Linked DNA regions of Homo sapiens. The protein of the gene in region 1 purifies or fractionates together with the protein of each later gene. This does not show direct contact. Each region holds a gene or a part of one and is shown in the gene's direction. Other genes may lie near its edges.

Evidence for each region. The genes of interacting proteins can lie anywhere in the genome.
Region 2: the proteins of MADD (region 1) and TC2N purify together in Homo sapiens (affinity purification with mass spectrometry; one large-scale study listed by BioGRID and IntAct). This does not show direct contact.
Region 3: the proteins of MADD (region 1) and MTMR4 purify together in Homo sapiens (affinity purification with mass spectrometry; one large-scale study listed by BioGRID and IntAct). This does not show direct contact.
Region 4: the proteins of MADD (region 1) and NXPH3 purify together in Homo sapiens (co-immunoprecipitation; one large-scale study listed by IntAct). This does not show direct contact.

Annotation. Positions count from the first base shown.
Region 1 is NC_000011.10:47,282,670-47,287,827, forward strand, and holds part of MADD (MAP kinase-activating death domain protein), read left to right. Parts: intron 1-143; coding exon 144-300; intron 301-1,508; coding exon 1,509-1,612; intron 1,613-1,705; coding exon 1,706-1,896; intron 1,897-2,271; coding exon 2,272-2,525; intron 2,526-2,781; coding exon 2,782-2,921; intron 2,922-3,763; coding exon 3,764-3,865; intron 3,866-5,158. UniProt on the Homo sapiens protein: Guanyl-nucleotide exchange factor that regulates small GTPases of the Rab family. Converts GDP-bound inactive form of RAB27A and RAB27B to the GTP-bound active forms.
Region 2 is NC_000014.9:91,857,537-91,861,036, reverse strand, and holds part of TC2N (tandem C2 domains nuclear protein), read left to right. Parts: intron 1-3,500.
Region 3 is NC_000017.11:58,511,839-58,515,937, reverse strand, and holds the start of MTMR4 (phosphatidylinositol-3,5-bisphosphate 3-phosphatase MTMR4), read left to right. Parts: upstream 1-1,299; 5' UTR 1,300-1,530; coding exon 1,531-1,575; intron 1,576-2,996; coding exon 2,997-3,086; intron 3,087-3,431; coding exon 3,432-3,548; intron 3,549-4,099. UniProt on the Homo sapiens protein: Lipid phosphatase that specifically dephosphorylates the D-3 position of phosphatidylinositol 3-phosphate and phosphatidylinositol 3,5-bisphosphate, generating phosphatidylinositol and phosphatidylinositol 5-phosphate.
Region 4 is NC_000017.11:49,578,871-49,581,598, forward strand, and holds part of NXPH3 (neurexophilin-3 precursor), read left to right. Parts: coding exon 1-430; 3' UTR 431-2,728. UniProt on the Homo sapiens protein: May be signaling molecules that resemble neuropeptides. Ligand for alpha-neurexins.

The DNA of each region.
Region 1 (5,158 bases):
GGACTTTGATTTTTCCTTTGCTAATGTTTGACCTGTGCCTTCTATCCTGGCTCTGCTTTAGACTTTTTCCTGCCTTTCTTTCAGGCGTTGCTTGCCTTTTTTTCCTTGCTGCTGACTTTCTGTTCTTTTCCCTCATGGGGTAGATATGTTTGATCCAGCCCTGATTGGTGACAAGCCAAAGTGGTATGCTCATCAGCTGCAGCCTATCCACTATCGCGTCTATGACAGCAATTCCCAGCTGGCTGAGGCCCTGAGTGTACCACCAGAGCGGGACTCTGACTCCGAACCTACTGATGATAGGTGAGCATCCTTAGGGCAGCAAAAAGGTTTTAAAGGTGAGGAGGCTCTCACTAGCCCTTCTTTAGCACAGAGAAGGCAAAGTCTCATAGGCTTCCCATATCAGTGTTTTTAATTTTATTTTATTTTATTTATTTATTTTTTTGAGACGGAGTCTCGCTCTGTCACCCAGGCTGGAGTGCAGTGACGCAATCTCGGCTCACTGCCAGCTCCGCCTCCCGGCTTCATGCCATTCTCCTGCCTCAGCCTCCCGAGTAGCTGGGACTACAGGCGCCCGCCACCACGCCCGGCTAATTTTTTGTATTTTTAGTAGAGATGGGGTTTCACCGTGTTAGCCAGGATGATCTCGATCTCCTGACCTTGTGATCTGCCCGCCTCGGCCTCCCAAAGTGCTGAGAATACAGGCGTGAGCCACCGCGCCCGGCCTTATTTATTTATTTTTGTATGTATGTGACAGAGTCTTGCTGCTCTGTCACGCGGTCTGGAGTGCAGTGGTGCCGTCTCAGCTCACTGCAAGTTCTCCCTCCCAGGTTCAAGTGATTCTCCTGCCTCCGCCTCCCAAGTAGCTGGGACTACAGGTGCTGCCACCTTGCCTGGCTAATTTTTGTATATATATATTTTTTGAGATGGAGTCTTGCTCTGTCGCCCAGGCTAGAGCGCAGTGGCGTGATCTGGGCTCACTGCAACCTCCGCCTCTCGGGTTCAAGCGATTCTCTTGCCCCAGCCACCCGAGTAGCTGGGATTACAGGCACATGCCATCACGCCCAGCTAATTTTTTGTGTTTTTAGTAGAGACAAGGTTTCACCATGTTGGCCAGGCTGGTTTCAAACTCATGCCTTCAAGCAATTCGCCTGCCTCGGCCTCCCAAAGTGCTAGGATTACAGGCGCGAGCCACTGCACCCGGCTACTTTTTGTATTTTTAGTAGAGATGGTGTTTCACCATGTTTGCCAGGCTGGTCTCAAACTCCAGACCTCAGGTGATCCACCCGCCTTAGCGTCCCAAAGTGCTTGGATTACAGGCATGGGCCACTGTCCCGGCCCCCATATCAGTCTTTATGCTTTGGTTGACTGTTTTTCTTGGCTTCTTTATTTGATTTGTTCCCTGGCCTTGAGTTCGGAGTGCTCCCCCTTTTATTTTTCCTGGTGCTGATTGTAGGTGTTCTCCCTGCCCCTTTCTGTTTTGTTTGTTTTTTATGCACTTCACTCTGCAGTGGCAGTGATAGTATGGATTATGACGATTCAAGCTCTTCTTACTCCTCCCTTGGTGACTTTGTCAGTGAAATGATGAAATGTGACATTAATGGTGATACTCCCAGTAAGTGTGCTTGGGGAGATTGGCCAGCCCTGGGCAGGGGTTGGGGGCCCAAGGATGGAGTGGTCTGTACCTGCCTCCCTTGGATTTTGGCAGATGTGGACCCTCTGACACATGCAGCACTGGGGGATGCCAGCGAGGTGGAGATTGACGAGCTGCAGAATCAGAAGGAAGCAGAAGAGCCTGGCCCAGACAGTGAGAACTCTCAGGAAAACCCCCCACTGCGCTCCAGCTCTAGCACCACAGCCAGCAGCAGCCCCAGCACTGTCATCCACGGAGCCAACTCTGTAAGTGAGGAGCGGTGGATGAGTGAGAACCATGGCCTGGGATGTGGGCCTCATCTATTAGGAAAGCCAGGCTGTAGCTATTCATTTGCTGCTTCTCACACAATTTTCTCATCTTCCTCTTCATGGGCCCTAGAGCTTAGAGCCTAAGAGACCTACTTTTGACCCCAAAAGGAGGTCATCAGGCTTTGTTCAGGGTACAGCTATGATCCCCCTTATATAGTTTGTGGGGACAGAGAACGGGTGCTACAGAGATCATTTCCCACACATTCCTTAGGCTAGAAATCTGACAGGCCTGGTCCAGCCCTGCCAAACTGGGATTACAGGAAGGTACCATTGGGCACCAGGTAACCACTTTTAATTTCATGCGGCCTTTAGGAACCTGCTGACTCTACGGAGATGGATGATAAGGCAGCAGTAGGCGTCTCCAAGCCCCTCCCTTCCGTGCCTCCCAGCATTGGCAAATCGAACGTGGACAGACGTCAGGCAGAAATTGGAGAGGGGTCAGTGCGCCGGCGAATCTATGACAATCCATACTTCGAGCCCCAATATGGCTTTCCCCCTGAGGAAGATGAGGATGAGCAGGGGGAAAGTTACACTCCCCGATTCAGCCAACATGTCAGTGGCAATCGGTGAGAGCCTGGGCATCCCTTCTAGATGGGTGACTGAAGGACCTCACCTCAGTGGACCCTGGGCAAGGGTTAATCAGAAAGTCTGAGAAGTCTGAATGCTCTCGTGGTCCTGCCATCCCCAGAGGATGGTGTTCTGATCCAGGGGCTTAGGAATTACGGGAAGGGAGTGGCAACTGTAGTATAGCATAATTATGGCCCATACTCCCAAGATCAGGTACCCCTGCCTGGGGATCATAGGTGCCTCTGTGCATTCAAGGGCTCAAAAGCTGCTGCGGCCCAACAGCTTGAGACTGGCAAGTGACTCAGATGCAGAGTCAGACTCTCGGGCAAGCTCTCCCAACTCCACCGTCTCCAACACCAGCACCGAGGGCTTCGGGGGCATCATGTCTTTTGCCAGTAAGTGCCTTCAGCTGTCTCTCTCACTCCTGTGTTCCATTTTCTCTACAGCAGAGCCTGACTATGGCAAATGTTGCTTAGAACTTCACATGTAGGGCTAGGTTGGCATTAGCAAGCCCTAATCCAGTCATTTGGGTGATACTGAATAAGGCGTTTTCAAGTGAGGTCAGTAAAGGACAGGGACAGATTAGTCATTATGCCTGGACATTTCAGTCTATTTCAGGTAAGACAGCTGGATGGGTAACTGGAAAACAGGCAGTAAATTCAAAATCACACACTTGTACTTATATTTTGTGGAAATACTCTGGTCAAATTTGATTTGAGTCCATATCTGGTATCTTCTTTGCCTCATAACGGACTCTTCCATGAATGTGCTTTGAAATCGATATGAGATTGAATTTTGTGCTTAGATAGTATTCCCAGCAGTGCAGGGTCGTATCAGCTAAAGATTGAAGACAGACCATGGACTAGAGAGAGCGAACGTAGAGGATCCCTGTGATTGTGAGTTTCTTCAGCAGCCAGGGAGGGACAGTGCCAGCTTCAGACCAGAAGCCTGTTAACTGCCAGCTTTCATGCTGTGTAGCAGTGGATGAGAGACTTGGATATTATCATGTGAGGTGGACAGAGAAAGCTGTTACTGGGTTTTGGCTGATCCTGGCAGTGGCTCCATTGTTTGCCTGGAGTTAGACTTGATCCTTTCTAAGACAGATCAGAGATGATCTGATCCACCAAACTGGGATTGTGTTTGAAAAGGAGGGAGGTGCAGATGCTGATAGTCATTAGTCTACTGCTTTGATTACTTACTCTGCCAAGTCATCGCTCTTGCACCCTCCCCTTGATAGGCAGCCTCTATCGGAACCACAGTACCAGCTTCAGTCTTTCAAACCTCACACTGCCCACCAAAGGTGCCCGAGAGAAGGCCACGCCCTTCCCCAGTCTGAAAGGTAACTACAGCCTTCCTTTTGCCAAGCCAGGTTTCTCCGGGAGATGTTTCGGGCTGTGGGTTCATGTCAGGAGCCCTGCATCTGCTGAATCCTTTGACCTGGTTGTCGTCCCTCATGTTGCTCCTCATGGCTTTCACCGCACATCCTGGGCTCTGATGGTTGTCAGATGGAAACCATCTTTGTAGCTAGAGACGGCCCTGTTATGTCATTTAGGACAATGGCAACTGTGGGATTACTGCTGCTTCGCGGGAGGACCCTGTCAGGGTATATGATTAACATAGGGATCATCAGCTGCCCCCAGTCGTCTGCTGGGTTGCCACTGCATGAACTTAGGGCAAATTCCGTGCCAAGGAGCTGGCCCACCAGAGAATGGTTATGGAGAGCCTGGCAGCGTTCATAGAGCACAGCCTCTCACCTCTCACGCACTCATAAGCCTGTCAACCCAGGGCTTAATGAGTGCGCCAGGTAGTATTGGTTAGTTTCTAGGGGCAGTTAAAACCTTATGTGAAAGCCAGGCGCGGTGGCTCACGCCTGTAATCCCAGCACTTTGGGAGGCCGAGGCGGGTGGATCACGAGGTCAGGAGTTCGAGACCAGACTGACCAACATGGCGAAACGCCGTCTCTGCTAAAAATACAAAAGTTAGCCATCTGGTGTCACGCACCTGTAATCCCAGCTACTTGGGAGGCTGAGGCAGGAGAATCGCTTGAATCCAGGAGGCGGAGGTTGCAGTGAGCCGAGGTCGCGCCACTGCACTCCAGCCTGGGTGACAGAGCAAGACTCCGTCTTAAAAAAACAAAAAACAAAAAACGAAACCTTATTTGAATTGGTTTGTGCTATCTGACAGTTTCAGGGGCTTTTCTGAATTTGATTTTTTATTTTTTTTATTTTCTGAGACAGTGTCACTCCGTCACCCAGGCTGGATGGAGTGCAAGGTGGTGATCTTGGCTCACTGTAACTGCCGCCATCCAGGCTCAAGTGATTCACATGCTTCAGCCTCCCGTGTAGTTGGAATTATAGGCACATACCACCTCGCCTGGCTAATTGTTGTATTTTTAGTAGAGACGGGGTTTCACCATGTTGGCCAGGCTGGTCTTGAACTCCTGACCTTGAGTGATCTGCCCACCTTGGCCTCCCAAAGTGCCAGGATTACAGGTGTGAGCCACTGCACCTGGCCTGATTTTTTTGTTTTCTCTGGATGGTATGACGAAATATTTAACTGTGGTAGGAAGTGCAGTGAGAAACATGTATTTTTTTTTTTTTTTTTTTTTTTTTGAGACAAGAGTCTCGCTCTG
Region 2 (3,500 bases), on another chromosome or scaffold:
GATGCTTCTGTTCTTCATGTAATCTACAGCAGAGAGGCTGGGAAAAACTGAAGTTTCTTTAAATACAGGACAGTGCAGTCTCCAGAGGCCAGAGCCTCTTTGCCAGTCACAAAGAACCCTTAATTGCCTTGTAAAATGTAGTCCAGCCCTCTTCACAGATTCGCAGATTACAGAGTTATTCATCCAAACAATTTCCACGTACTGCATAGAGGGTTTCATGGACAGTAGCCTTGATTCAGACCAACCTGTATCTCTGCAACCCTCACTACAGACCACTTTTTCACAGTGGAGTTGCTATTTGGCTATGGCTTAAAGGATGACCCAGAATTCCTCAAGCATAGAAAGAGGGGAAGGGCAGTAAGAAGACCAGTGTGGTTGGAACAGAGGATACAAGGATGTGTGTGTGTATGTCAGGAAGGGATAAAAGTTGAGGCTAGATTATTCACAAGACTATTCACCTAGTTGAGTTTGGACTTCATATTGTGCAGGTCAGCATTTCACAGAAGACTAGCCCATGAAGATGCTAATCAATGCTCCAAGATCAAGGAGCTCACTTGTTTAATAAGTTGGGGATTTGAATGCTGAATCCCCTTTTTAAAGAGTCACAGTTGATTTTAGAAAACTGAAGGCTCTGAGAAGTCCTGCAATGAAAAGAAAACCTGCTTAATTTTGTATAAAGGTTAATCCAACTTTTTTTTTTTTTTTGCAAGGAAATGATTTCCCCCCTTCCCCAGCCCCCCATAACAAAACTTAACATCTCCAGGAACAATTTTCCTTGGAGTCTGGAATTGCTGCTGTCTGCTATGGGAAGCTGTGGTGAGGTTTTAATTTTGTTTTGATTTTTAATTAGGGAAGACACATCATCTTGTTTTCTACTTTGGAAATGGTGTATGGAGGGAGGGGAGATGAGAATTAAGAAAAATAATTGCAGTTGTTCACATAAGAGACATTATTTCTAAAGCGATCTTTCTAAAGAGTAAGACTGACTAGGTCCTTAGTTAGAACCCTACTGACATTCCCTCTGCCCACAGGTTAAGATTCAAACTCCTGAATAGGATTGACAAAACCTTCCGTGATCTGGTTCCTGCCTGCTGCTCCAGTTCCAGCTCCTACCACTTTCCCCTCCTTTAGACCAAATTCTTGGAGAAACAAACACATCCCCAACAAACCAGAATGGCTTATGTACTCCCTCCAGCTGCTCCTGTCTGAGCTCTTCTCATTGGCTGGAATGCAGTTCTTCTCTTTGCCCATTTGGCAAATGCCTATTCATCTTTCCACAGAGATCAGCCTCTCTAGGAACTTTCCAGAGCCATCCCTGACCTCTGTGGTCTGTGCAGCCCACCAAGCCCCCACCCCTGTGTAGAGGGAGTCACTTCTGCTGTATTACCAGTGCCCCTGTGGTGTAGTTTCCACCTGGGGTTCTAAATGCAAACTCCTGCATGATACTATTTGTGTGTTGTTCATAATGTAGACTTACAGCCTAGCACAGTGCCTGGCCCATAGTAGGTGGTCAGTGTCAATAGGTTGAGTAGAATGTGATGATGGGAAAATGCAGAGAAGGGGAAAGCTTCAGGAGAAGTGGAATGGGTGGAATCAATAGGTCTTGGTGATTGATCGGGTACGGAGGCTTAGGGAGCCAAGGCACACCCTGAGGTGAGCTAAAGACCTCAGGAGGAGGAGTTTTGGTAGAGGGGAAAGGTGAATGTCATTTTAAACTTACTTCTTTTTTTTTAATTTTTATGTTTTGTTAAGGTAAGATTTACATACAGTTAAATGCATAGATATTAATTACACAGCTGGACAAATAAAACATGCTGAATTGAAGATGGCCACATTTGGGTGAAGGTATTGTGAAGATGGCCAGCAGTGTGTATGAAAGCACAGAGTCTGGTGCTAGAGACCGAGCTCTGGGGTCCTTGTGGGAAGTGACACCAGGTGCAGATAAGGTGACCCCTTGCGGTGAGAAGCTCCAAATATCCCAGTATCCCGAGGTGGCTCCAGATACTGGGATATCTGGAGCTCTCTCACTAATCACTAGGATGTTTTCATCTTCGTTTGGCTGTTTTCTGCTTTTGTTTTGGCTGGGCTGGGCTTCCCTCTTGTTGTTTGGGCTATTAAAGGATCAGAAACTATGCTGGCGAGTAGAAGGGATATGGAATGGGATGGCCACAGTTAATTGGGAACATGTGTAGAGGACCCACTCTTTGATCTGCATAACCACGCTTATGAGAGCAGTTTCTTCATCCACTCGCAGGGGGTCAGTCCATCACTTCCTGAGTGAGTGACAAAGCTCCTATCCCTGGTGACTAGGGCCACCACACACAACAGATGAGGAAAGAAATTCTAAGATAAACAAAAATGACTCATAGCATAATATGAAAACTGAAACGTGCATTAACCAAGCTATCTCTGCATCCTGAAGCAGCAGAGTCATTTGCTAATGAACTCATTAGGAAAATAAATGTTCTCAGTTGGAGGTTAGCATTCATTTACCCCAAAGTATACTGCATTTAATTAAAGGTACAGGAAAAATTTTCCTGGCCAGAGGAGTTACGGTGATGTGACAGGAAGATCCTTGTCTGAAAGTCTAGACATCTTTGGTTCTTTGTCCAATTCTCTCTGCTGTGTGACCTAGGGCAAGTCATCTGGCCTCTCTGAGCCTCAGATCCTTCTTTTGTAACCTGCTGAAGATGTCGATGTCAACCCTGAATCCTGTATTTACTCAACTTCTCAACAAATATTCTTGGCTGGGAGTGATGGCTCACGCCTGTAATCTCAGCACTTTGGGAGGCTGAGGCAGGTAATTGCTTGAGGCCAGGGGTTTGAGACCAGCCTAGGAAATATAGTGAAACCCCATCTTTACCAAAAAAAAAAAAAAAAAAAAGAAGAAGAAGAAAGAAAGAATCAGCCAAGCATAGTGGTGCATGCCTGTGGTCCCAGCTACTCAAGAGGTTGAAGTGAGAGGATCACTTAAGCCCAGGAAGTTGAGGCTGCAATGAGCCATGATGGCACCAATGCATTCCAGCCTGGGCAACAGAGTAATACCCTATCTCAAAAAACAAACAAACAAAGAACAACAACAACAAAAACCCAAATATTCTTCAAGCTTCTACTCTGTTCTGGGCACTGAGCTGGTTAAATATCCCTGCATGAACACTTTTTTGCTGTGGTCCCTGGCCAAACAGCTGTTACTCCCAATTCAATGCATGGCTCTGTTCTTTATGCCAAACTTGGAAAAGTGGGCTGGGTACCACTCTGGTTCTTTAGAGGAATTTTGTTGTGGTTCAGGCGACTGTACATCATAGTGCGAATCTGTTGCCAATAGTGGAAGGAATGCTGGGATTGGAGTTGAATAGACCTGAATTTGGGTCTCAACCCTGCCACTTACTAGTTTGTGACCTGGACTAATTTACTGAGGTTCTTTGAGCCTCACTTTTCTCATCTGTTAAATGGGGATAATAATACCGGCTCCAGTTGTTTTGAGAAATAAGATGATGTGT
Region 3 (4,099 bases), on another chromosome or scaffold:
AGTGAGATGGGAAAGGCCTAGAGAGCTGTAGGCCCTGGCCCAGACCAGGCCCTTAACCTGGTAGTATCTCTTCGGTGTCTTTTAGGTGTCCCTTGTGCTTAGGGGCAGGTTAAAGAATTCAGTAGATGAGAGGATTTCCTCCTTCCCTCCCTTCCTTCCATAGACATGTGGATTTGGTGTGTGCACTATTGGTTCAGTCTCTTCTCAGAAAGCCTGCTGGTTTTGGCCCCCACCAACAGATAGCTCCTCTTTTTCTCTTCTGGGCTACCCTGAAAAGAGCATGGGCTTCACAGTCAGCTTCATCTAATTTCAAATCCTAGCACCACCACTTAGTTAAATTACATACTTTCTCTCTAAGCTTGAGTCTCACGAGTAAGACAGGATAAGGTTTACTTCTTGGGGCTTGAAAAGTTTTACTGAGATAATGTTAGAAACTGCCTGGCTCATTGTAGATGCTTAATAAAATGTCAGGTTTTCTTTTATTACTCCCTTCTCCCCCAAACAAGACAAAAGCCCTGGTGTCTGAAAGTTACAAGGTGCAGGAAGTTTGGGGTTCCAGCCACCTCCCTCTGTGACTCTTGGTGACATTTTGAGCCCCTTATTCCTGGTCCTTATTCCTTGGCCCTCTACCCAACTCTCTCTACTCCGCTGCTCCTGGGTTTCAAGTTTCGTTTTTTTGTATAGCTTCTGTGGTCGATACTTCTAGCTCTTCACTTTCCCAGACTAAGAAATCCTTTCTCCTCCAAGAAGGGCTTTCTTACCCAGAGATCAGAATGTGAAACAAGGGAGAGATGGAGCTGAAGGAGTAGGGTTGGGTAGGGGCGTTGGAATAAAAAGCTCATTTCCCTTTCCAGGAGCGTGGAATGACTAACCTGGCACCATTCTAAGGGGAAAGAAAGGTTTAACGAAGTCACGGGATTGAAGGACCCTGATGGGCAGGGGCATGGTGGGTAGTGGTTTTGGAGGGAAAGGAGGAAGCAAATGGGGTGCGGGTAGGTGAGCTCCACCTTGGGATCCAGAGCAGGCGTCGGGGGAACTTAGGGGAGGGGGCGCGGGGATGGGTTTGTAAGAGGGCATGGGGTGGCTCACCTTAGAAGAAGGGAAATGAGAAGATGTGGGCGGTCCCGTAGCCCAGATTCCTGAAAGCTCCTAAAGGTCCCTGGAGTAGGGTACGCCCTCCTACGAGGCCCAGGGTCCGCGGGGAGGGAGGAGGCTGGGCTTGTGGGCGGGGCCCGCGGAGCCGCCCCGCCTCTACCTCCGCCTTCCCGCCGCGGTCCCGGGCTCTCCCCTCGCCTGGCTCCCCTCCCTTCTGCACTCGTGCGGGAGGGCGGAGCTGGGCCCGCTCCATTGTGGAGAGGAGGGGAGAGGCGCGCGGGAGCCGCGCGGAGGCCCGGCCACCAGCGCCCTAGCCTCTTGGCCGCCGCGGCTGCACCTGGCGAGCCCCGCAGCCGGGATGCGGCGGGCGCCCGGGGCTGGCGGGCAGCGCAGCGGCTCCGGGGACATGTGCGCTGGCCCAGACCGCCCGCGACCATGAGCCTGACCGCCCGCGTCTCCTGCTCCATGCTTAGCTGCTTCGTAAGTGCCCACCCTGCCTTTGGGGGCCTAGGAGGCACCCGCAGCCCCGCCCAGGGTCAGCCCTCGATTTCAGCCCATCCCCCTTCCCGAGGCCCCTGGCCCGGCCCCGAACGTTTGGGGGGCAGGGAAGGTGGGTTAACCCTTTTATTTCTTGGACTTGCTTCAATCTTTGGGTGCCGGAGATGGTCGAAGGCCAGGAATGGAAATTCTGTGGTCCATCCTGGCCCCGCAGCCACTGCCCTTGACTGCAGATCTCTAGGCCCCGCCCTGCAGGGGTACATCCCTTTACCTCCGCCTCTCCCTCTTGGTCCCACCCGCTGAATCCTTGCTTGGGGATGTGGGATGTGGCTAGTAGGCTGAATGGGATGTTAGGAGGTTGGTCGGGGAGCACGGGATGTCTTTGAGCTGGCTTGGGGCTCCAGTCCCTTCCCTCTTCCACCATTCCATCCCTCACCTGGCATGCCAGCCTTTTCTCCTTGACTGTCCCCCAGACAGCCTCTCTTCTCCATCTTCCCTGCCTCTGCAGGGTTCCGTACCTCTGCATCATTCCCGGTCCTCCCCTCCTCCCGCTCTGGCTGATGCTCCTTCCCAGCTTCCCCCATCTGTCCTCTCAGCTGTCCCCCCACCTTCCCCGTGGGTGTCTGCCGGGCCTCCTCTCTCTCTCTCCCCTGGCTGTCCTTGGGTCTCCTGGCTCCTCCCAGGCGCGTGGATCCCCCCGGGTCCCCTCCCTGGTGGTTGGGAGGGGAGTTCCTTTTGCTTGCTGTGGGTATTCCTCAGGAATTCCCCTCTGATTAGCAGGCAGAGCAGGTTACTTGGCAGGTAATGGGGGCTTGTCAGCAATGTGGGTCTAACAAGAAGATAAGCCCAGCTCTCAAACACGTCTTCCTTTTGAAAGCGTCGGTGAAGGCCCTCTAGAGGCGTGGGACTGAATCCCCCCACCCACTCCTCTTTGTCTCCTTCACCCACCAGATTGAAGCTTCAGTGGCTTGTAGGCGCCTGATTTCCCTTCTCTCTGAAACCAGCTGCCATACCTGGCTCCTTTTCCTCAGGACAGCACTTTCCCATCCCCACTCCTGCCTTACCCTTATGCGGGTCTAAGGGAAAGAGTCTTTCTTTTCCTTAGTTTTCTCTCCTCCATTTTTGAAATGTTGGTTCTATAGGAGAGTCCCTCTTTGAAGAGTGCAGATTCCCAATTCCTCCTGGGGCCTCACTCTTTCCTTAGGCTTAATAGGCTGATATGCTCTCCATTTCACCCTTCCCTGTCTCCAACCAAGTCAGATCTCTTTTCCCTTCTCTGGTGACCAGAACCTTTAGAGGTGTGTGTGTGTGGGTATCTGTGGATTTCTTGGTGGGGAGAGGAGCAGAATGAGCCTGATGGGCTAAGTGGAGCTTGGTGACTTAGGACTGTGGCCTTCCTACAGGGTGAGGAGGGGCCCCCCAGCCTGGAGTACATCCAAGCCAAGGATCTGTTCCCCCCCAAGGAACTAGTGAAGGAGGAAGAGAATCTTCAGGTAAGGAGGAGTTGGGGGCCAGGATAGATGGGGCTCCCTGCCCAGTTAAAAAACACCCTCCCTTCTCCCAAAAATCCTCAAGGGCATCTGGTACCAGAGCTCTGGCTTCATGTTCCCTGGTCTCTGGAGGAGGAGGGTTTGTCTGCGCATCCTGGAGCCTTTGGCCGCAGGGAAGGAAAGGCAGCTTTCCTGTACAGCTGTTGCCTGGTGCTGTTACCGTGGAGAGAACTCTCCTCTCTTGCCTTGGCCCACCTTTTCCAGAGGGGATCCCACAGATCAGGGGCTGTAGAAGAGGATAAGGTGGTCACTCACTTCTGGACTGAAGGTTTCTCTGCCCCTTGACAGGTCCCCTTCACAGTGCTGCAGGGTGAGGGAGTAGAGTTCCTGGGCCGGGCAGCCGATGCCCTCATTGCCATCTCTAACTACCGGCTGCATATCAAATTCAAGGACTCTGTCATCAACGTGAGTTTCTGTATTGTTCTCCTACCCCTAAGCTAGAATCCCTATGAAGTTCAAGGTGGGATTGTTCCAAGGCTGTCCTTGATCATGTCATTAAAAAAGTTGGAGGCCGGGCGCAGTGGCTCACGCCTGTAATCCCAGCACTTTGGGAGGCCGAGGCGGGTGGATCACTTGAGGTCAGGAGTTCGAGACCAGCCTGGCCAACATGGTGAAACTGTGTCTCTACTAACAATACAAAAATTAGTCGGGCTTGGTGGTGCGCACCTGTAATCCCACCTACTCGGGGGCTGAGGTACGGGAATCACTTGAACCTGGGAGGTGGAGGTTGCAGTGAGCCGAGATTGTGCCACTGCTGTCCAGCTTGGGTGACAGGGTGAGACTACCTCTCAAAAAAATAAAAAAAAAAAAGTTGGGGATCCCTTCTGTTTCTCTCTGACCTCATGTTTTCCTGCCTCATTTTCCTAGCTCTGTTTCTGGCTCATTCTCCTTTCTCCTCTTCTCTCTTTCCATTATTCTATTACTGGCCCTTCTAAGGAGCACAGTGGCATTGTTGG
Region 4 (2,728 bases), on another chromosome or scaffold:
GACGGTGGCCCTGAACCTGCTCGTCACAGGGAAGATTGTGGACCATGGCAATGGGACCTTCAGCGTCCACTTCCAACACAATGCCACAGGCCAGGGAAACATCTCCATCAGCCTCGTGCCCCCCAGTAAAGCTGTAGAGTTCCACCAGGAACAGCAGATCTTCATCGAAGCCAAGGCCTCCAAAATCTTCAACTGCCGGATGGAGTGGGAGAAGGTAGAACGGGGCCGCCGGACCTCGCTTTGCACCCACGACCCAGCCAAGATCTGCTCCCGAGACCACGCTCAGAGCTCAGCCACCTGGAGCTGCTCCCAGCCCTTCAAAGTCGTCTGTGTCTACATCGCCTTCTACAGCACGGACTATCGGCTGGTCCAGAAGGTGTGCCCAGATTACAACTACCATAGTGATACCCCCTACTACCCATCTGGGTGACCCGGGGCAGGCCACAGAGGCCAGGCCAGGGCTGGAAGGACAGGCCTGCCCATGCAGGAGACCATCTGGACACCGGGCAGGGAAGGGGTTGGGCCTCAGGCAGGGAGGGGGGTGGAGACGAGGAGATGCCAAGTGGGGCCAGGGCCAAGTCTCAAGTGGCAGAGAAAGGGTCCCAAGTGCTGGTCCCAACCTGAAGCTGTGGAGTGACTAGATCACAGGAGCACTGGAGGAGGAGTGGGCTCTCTGTGCAGCCTCACAGGGCTTTGCCACGGAGCCACAGAGAGATGCTGGGTCCCCGAGGCCTGTGGGCAGGCCGATCAGTGTGGCCCCAGATCAAGTCATGGGAGGAAGCTAAGCCCTTGGTTCTTGCCATCCTGAGGAAAGATAGCAACAGGGAGGGGGAGATTTCATCAGTGTGGACAGCCTGTCAACTTAGGATGGATGGCTGAGAGGGCTTCCTAGGAGCCAGTCAGCAGGGTGGGGTGGGGCCAGAGGAGCTCTCCAGCCCTGCCTAGTGGGCGCCCTCAGCCCCTTGTCGTGTGCTGAGCATGGCATGAGGCTGAAGTGGCAACCCTGGGGTCTTTGATGTCTTGACAGATTGACCATCTGTCTCCAGCCAGGCCACCCCTTTCCAAAATTCCCTCTTCTGCCAGTACTCCCCCTGTACCACCCATTGCTGATGGCACACCCATCCTTAAGCTAAGACAGGACGATTGTGGTCCTCCCACACTAAGGCCACAGCCCATCCGCGTGCTGTGTGTCCCTCTTCCACCCCAACCCCTGCTGGCTCCTCTGGGAGCATCCATGTCCCGGAGAGGGGTCCCTCAACAGTCAGCCTCACCTGTCAGACCGGGGTTCTCCCGGATCTGGATGGCGCCGCCCTCTCAGCAGCGGGCACGGGTGGGGCGGGGCCGGGCCGCAGAGCATGTGCTGGATCTGTTCTGTGTGTCTGTCTGTGGGTGGGGGGAGGGGAGGGAAGTCTTGTGAAACCGCTGATTGCTGACTTTTGTGTGAAGAATCGTGTTCTTGGAGCAGGAAATAAAGCTTGCCCCGGGGCACTGGAGTCAGAGTTGTCCAAGGAAAGGGCCTCAGGCATCCCTTGGTCCAGGAAGAATTTCTCTGATGGCCGCAGGACATTTGCTTGAGACCCAAGTGGCAGGGATCCAACCGCCCTTGGCGCTGATGTTTGCTGAGGGCTCAGGGCTTCCCTCTCCAGCCCCGGTTCCAAGCTGTCTGATCCCCCACGAGGAAACTTGAGCAAACACCCTGGGCTCGGTGCTGGAGGAGGGCGTAGCATCTTCAAGAACAGCTCAGGGAGGGAGAGCTAGCAGGTAGAATGGGCCAATGAGGGTGTTCCTTGGTGTCCTCCCTGAACTGCCATCTGCAGACCCAGCAGGGTCCTAGCCCCGTCATTTTGCTGCGTGGCCTTGGCCATGTCCATTCTCCTCTCTGGCTTTCTTTCTTTGTTTCTTCCTCTATGACATGAAGGGCTTGCCCAGACCAGGGGTTCTCAAACGCGGATCACCCAGAGGGTTTGTTAACACACAGATTTCTGGGTCCTACCCACATTTCTAATTCAGCAGGCCTGGGTGGGGCCTAAGAATTAGAATTTCTAACGAGTGCCCAGGTCTATGCTGATGCTGCTGCTCCAGGGCCCATGCTGGGAGACCCACTCAAAGGACCTTGAAGTTCATCTCTGGCTATGGCTCCGCAGGAGGGGGAGACACCTCGGATGTGATTTCCCAGCTGTAATTTCCATCTGCTTCTCCTGGGGAAGGGGCCTTTCAGAGAATCGGGGCTATTGTATTGGATTTTCAATCTGACCACATGCCAGTGAAGGAACAGGCTGGAGTGGGGTGTGGACACAGGGCCTGCGTCAGTCACTCCCCTCCTGCAGCTAGTAAGAGGCCTCAGAATGGCCAGCTGCCAGTGGCACCTTGTCTGGGAGTTAGTTGGGCCCTTTGGGACTCTGTGAAGGGAAGACACTACCAAGGTCACAGTGCCTTCTGGAGGTCATTCTAAGTCGGCTCTCTTGGGAGGGCAGCACTCAGGGCCCTTTGGGCCCTCTTGAGGAGAGGAGAGTCCTGGCAGTAAGGTAAGATGGGCTTGCCACCCCCCACCTTTCGCCCCTGCCCACCAGCGCTCCGCGCAAACTGGTCCCCTCATACTGCAGCGCAGAGTTGGGTGGGGCTGAGAAGCCATCTGGTTACAGCCCACCTTGTAGGAAATGACCCAGCTTGTTTCCCCCACATCATGCTTCCAGGGGCCGTCTCTCCTGAGTGGAGATGTGAGACACAC